Regions from separate parts of the Homo sapiens genome. Here region 1 is linked to region 2. The links come from fine-mapping of genetic effects on gene expression. A gene starts in region 2. The other region holds a variant in brackets. All regions are shown on one strand. Distances are from middle to middle.

Region 1 (2,500 bases), 30 kb before region 2:
CCATCTCTAAACTAAAAAGTAAAAAAAAAAAAAAATTGTGGCTAATCAACGATGTTCCATCATTGCTCTTCCCCATTAGACCTCACAATATGTATTTTCTTTTTTCTTTTTTCTTTTTTTTTCTGAGACAGAGTCTCGCTCTGTTGCCCAGGCTGGAGTGCAGTGGCGCGATCTCGGCTCACTGCAAGCTCCGCCTCCTGGGTTCATGCCATTCTCCTGCCTCAGCCCTCCTGAGTAGCTGGGACTACAGGCGCCTGCCAACACGCCTGGCTAATTTTTTTTTATTTTTAGTAGAGAAGGGGTTTCACCGCGTTAGCCAGGATGGTCTTGATCTCCTGACCTTGTGATCCACCCACCTCAGCCTCCCAAAGTACTGGGATTACAGGCGTGAGCCACCACGCCTGGCACAAAATGTATTTTTAAAATGTTCTATTGTGAAATATTTCATATACAATAACATATAAGAAATATACACTCAATTTATAAAACATTAAACAACTCTGTTAAAACCACACAAAAGGCCAAGCACAGTGGCTCACACCTGTAATCCCAGCTACTGGGGAGGCTGAGGCACGACAATCACTTGAACCTGGGAGGCAGAGATTGCAGTGAGCTGAGATCGTGCCACTGCACTCCAGCCTGGGTTAACAGGGCAAGACCTAGTCTCTAAAATATAATAATTTTTTAATGAAAAAAATTAAAAATATTAACTCTGCCAAAACTGCACAATAAACATCTAGTTCACATTTGTCCTCTGGAGGCTGAGGTGGGAGGACTGCTTGAACCCAGGAATTCAAGAGTTTGAGGTTGTGGTGAGCTATGATCACACCCCTGAACTCTAGCCTGGGCAACAAAGCAAGACCCTTTTTCAAAACAAAAAAAAAAATCCCCAAATTTATAGAACATTGTCAACACCTTGGAAGCCCCTGCATGCCTCTAACAGATTATGTCTATCAACCACTCTTGTGGCTGGCAAAAAATCACATTACTTTTAAAAAAGCTTTACTACCTATGCATGTTTAAATTACATATTAATTGTTTTTTTATTTGTTTTGTTTTGTTTTGAGATGGCTCTATCACCCAGGCTGGAGTACAGTGGCACGATCTCAGCTGACTGCAACTTCCGCCTCCCAGGTTCAAGCGATTCTCCTGCCTCAGCCTCCCGAGTAGCTGGAATTACAGGCACGTGCCACCACACCCAGCTAATTTTTGTATTTTTAGTA[G/A]AGACAGGGTTTCGCCATGGTGGCCAGGCTGGTCTGGAACTCCTGACCTCAAGTGATCCGCCCACCTCGGCCTCCCAAAGTGCTAGGATTACAGGCGTCAGCCACCATGCCCAGCATTACATAGTACATTTTATCTGTTTTTGAATCATAAGGCATGTATTCCCTTAACTAAATATTATGTATCTGATATTTATCCATGTTAATGTGTGTTCCTGTAGTTTCTTCATTTTCACTGCTGTGCAATATTACACTGCATAATTTTACAATTTAGTACTGGGATTCATTGACTTGTTTACAGTTTGGGGCTACTACAATACGTTCTTGTACATGTATCCTAGTGCGCATGTGCAAAAGTTTTCTTGGGACTATATTTAGAAGTGTAATTTCCAGGTTGTGGGATATGTTCATGTTCAACTTCACCAGGTAATGACAAACTCGTGGGGTTTTTTTGTTTTTTTTTGAGACAGAGTTTCATTCCATGGCCCAGGCTGGAGTGCAGTGGCGCGATCTAGGCTCACTGCAACCTCCACCTCCTGGGTTCAAGCGATTCCCCTGCCTCAGACTCCTGAGTAGCTGGGATTACAGGCGCGCACCACCATGCCCGGCTAATTTTTGTATTTTTAGTAGAGACAGGGTTTCACCATGTTGGTCAGGCTGGTCTCAAACTCCTGACCTCGTGATCCGCCCACCTCAGCCTCCCAAAGTGCTGGATTACAGGCGTGAGCCACCGCACCCGGCCAAACTTGTTTTTTTAACTGGTTTTACTACACTCCTATATGCTGTGTGTGAGAGCACTTATTGTTCCACATCCTCACAAACACTTACTATCACACTTCTACCAATCTAGTGGGTGTGTAATGGTATATTGATATGGTTTTTATTTTCCTGTGCTTGGTTATTGAGTTTTCTCCCCCTATTTATAAGCCACTTGAGTGTCTTCTTTTGTAAATTATTGAAGGCTTTTCTCATTTTTCTATTGAGCTGTGCATTTTTTTTAGGTATTATATTAATACAAGTATTTTTATTCTGAACACTATTCCTTTGTTAGATGTTAACACTGCAAATATCTTCTCTCAGTTTATGGCTTGTCTCTTTGCTCTTTTATATTATATTTTTGTGAACACTCTTAACTTTGTATTCTTTATTGATTATGCTTTTTGTGTCTTTGTGTTTAAATCAGTCCCTACCTTCAGGTCATAAGGATATTCTACGTTATCTTCTAAAGGAAATTTTGAAGTTTTGCTTTTCACATTTTAGTCTTCAACCAACCTGGCTTT
Region 2 (3,020 bases):
ATACGTGCAGAAAAGCCATTAACTGCCACAAAGCTCAAGCCCAAGGCACAGGAGCCTGCGGTGATCCGCGCGCATGCGCGCTTTGTGGCTCTCCTTCCCGCTCGGAAAGGTGGGCGGAAATCAGACTAATTGCTGGGTCCTCCGAACGCCCGGCTTTTACGCCCCGCCCAAGTCCGGAAGATGGGCGGGCCCAGGAACTTGTGCGCGTGCGCATGCGCATTACAGCGCGCAGGGCGAAGCCGATTAGTCTAGCGGCCTCCGGCCGTTGGGAAGCGGGCATCGGGCCAGAAGGCAGAAGGCTGAGAAGCCCCGCCCGTAAGCAGAGGCAATCTGGAGCTATGCAGCTCAGTGGGTGAGAGGGAGGGAGCTGGGATTCAGACTTCAGACCTAATGAATGCCCCGAAGCAGACGCCAGCAACGTGAAGCCTAGCTGGCAGCCTCCCAGGTCTGGCGCGCAGCCAGCGCCAGACTTTAAATCGCAATACTAGAAACCAGGGCCTGTTAACCAACCGGGAGGGAGGCGCACGGTGTGGCTTCGGCCGTGATCCTTGTTGCAAAGGCCTGTCAGGCCCAGTATGAAGAAATAGTTTCAGTACAGGGAGTGTAGAAATAGCTGCAGAAGGCCTGAGGCCTGCAGCCCTAGAGTTAATAGCTACTTGGTGGAACCCTCGAATTCTTTCCACCTTGTTAATCCAACCCTGCACTGCATTCGCTGGAGGAAATATCACAGGCTGCATCCCCAAAGTATCACGTCTAGTTTTGACACCACTCCAAAGGGCAAAAATCCGAGAGGACCTCTAGGCAGGCAGTCAGCCCAGAGTCACCAAGCTGGAGCCGGGTCTCTCCTTACAAATCACTGCTATTTCTAGACAGCCTTGTAAGGTTTCTAGCCTGGCAGGGGGAAGGGAGTTCCTGCGGACACCTGCTAGCTTCACTGAACGGCCCCGGGATCCAATGCTACCTTTAATGTAGGGGCGGAGGTGGGAGGGCATGGGATGAGGGAAGGGTGCGTCTAGAGGCGAGAGACATGCAAAAACGAGTTCTACACCTCACCTCTGCCTCCTACTCACTGGGAACTTAGAGATCCCTGACTGTCTCCTAGCTTTCGGTCTCCCTATTTGTTAAAAGGAGGAGTTGGTACCGGCGGATCCTACTCAACTGACCGTCTGAGGTGCGGAAGGGCTGGGATGCTGCCTGCTTCATCTTTGCATGCGCCGTGCCTAGCGCAGCCCGAGATACACCAGTAGCTTCTTAATAAATGCGCAAAGGGCTCCCTATAATCTGCAGGCAGCAGCTGCCCTCACGGAGCCCACCTCTCGAGCGTCCCAAGAGAAAAATGCAAGCCGCGTGGTACTCAGCCGCTTTCCGTCTTTCAAGAACCCGCCCCGGACAAGCTGAGGCTTTTTTGGCTCTATGGGCTCCGAGAACTGGACCTCGAGTTTTGCACCGCCCGCCGATTTCGAGCCCAGAGGTATCCCCCACCCTTAAGGCCTATCATATCCTTGTTCCGCATCCACCCGGGCTTTCGACCCCTGCTTGGGTGCGGCCACCTCCTCGGTTCCCCAGCGTGGCCAGAAGCCATGGTTCCCGCTTAGAGCAAAAGCAGAGCGCGGCGAGCTCCGAACACATGCGTTGTGTGGGCCGCCGCCCAGACGTCTCTGGGCTGTGCTTCTGGAAAGCGGCTCCTACACCTCCCGGGAGCAGGAATCCCTTCGCGAGCAGCGGAGGCCAGCAGAACCAGAGGCAGTTGGCTCTACCCGCCCATCCCTCTGGCGCCGTGCGCGCAGGGCCCTACCGTACCGGGAATGCACGTCGGGCGGTCGTCGGGGGCGCGTGGCAATGAGATCCGGAATCGGCGGCAGCGGCTGCAGCACTCTGAGCTGGGCGCGGGAGGGGCCTTAAGTGGAACAGCTATGCTGACGTCAGCGGGGGGGGCCGGCGGACGTGCGGGAACCCACGTGTGAGTCGGGCTGGGGGTGGATGCCGAGCCAGGCGGGGCACTGGAGAGGCCCGGGTGGCGCGCGCAGCCAGACAACCGACCGGCAGACTGCTCCACGTGCGCTGGGAGTCTAAGTAAGGTGCTGCCCTCCAACCACAGAAGCCGGGGTCGGAGCCATGAGCCTGAGTCAGGACGACCTTCAGTTTCCTCATCCATGAAACCTGGGGAGGTTACTCTCAGGAAGGCTTGGATCTGTTTCTTCTTCATCCCTGTTTCTCAGTGTCCAGAACAGCTTCTGGCACGTAATAGGCACTCCACAAATATTTGTTGAACGAAAGGAAGAAAATGCCTAGCAGTCAGTCAGTCTGTTCTTACCTAAGTCGAGTGACCTCCAAAACTCGACGCTGCTTTTCCCTCTGCTGCTAAGCCTACCAGCTCCCACTCACAGTGAAGCCTTGGCCTCTCAGGCCTTGCAGGGTGACTCAGTTCAAATGTACATTTTATTCTGCACTTTCTACTGCCCACCCCACTGGCATCTCATCTCGAGTCTCAACCATACCCAAGAACTGTCAGTGGCTTGTTTTTTTGGTTTTGGTTTTTTGTTTGTTTATTTGTTTTTTGGTATTTTTCGAGACAGGGTCTCACTCTGTCACCCAGGCTGGAGGGCAGTGGCGTGATCATGGCTTCCTGCAGCCTCGACCTTCTGGCTCAAGCGATCCTCCCACCTCGGCTCCCCGAAGTGACTGGGACTACAAGCGCGCCCACTTGCCCTGCGATTTTTTTTTTAATTATTAATTTTTTTTTTTTTGAAACGGAGTCGCTCTGTCGCCCAGGCTGGAGTGCAGTGGGCTGATCTCGGCTCACTGCAACCTCCGCCTCCCGGGTTCAAGCGAATCTCCTGCCTCAGCCTCCTGAGAAGATGGGATTACAGCCAGGCGCCACCACGCCCGGCTAATTTTTGTAATTTTTAGTAGAGACGGGGTTTCACCATGTTGGTCAGGCTGATCTCAAACTCCTGGCCTCAAGTGATCTGGCCGCCTCGGCCTCACAAAGAGCTGGGATTACAGGCGTGAGCCACCGT

What was found. PIP is the estimated chance that this variant, and not a neighbour inherited with it, causes the effect.
Region 1: its variant is fine-mapped to the expression of LDHA in whole blood (TOPMed, PIP above 0.99).

What each region holds. Positions count from the first base shown.
Region 1 is chr11:18,423,565-18,426,064 of GRCh38, reverse strand. All of the region lies in intron 3 of LDHC (lactate dehydrogenase C), which reads right to left. Among named protein-coding and RNA genes, the nearest start is that of LDHC, 12 kb to the right of the region's middle. The variant G/A (reference allele first, on the strand shown) is at 1,224.
Region 2 is chr11:18,393,417-18,396,436 of GRCh38, reverse strand. It overlaps LDHA (lactate dehydrogenase A), which reads right to left and starts at 1,874. Exons shown (of 8, transcript NM_005566.4): 1 at 1,801-1,874. RefSeq lists enhancers at 13-514, 1,779-1,868, 1,249-1,914, 2,179-2,268, 1,915-2,579 and a silencer at 969-1,018.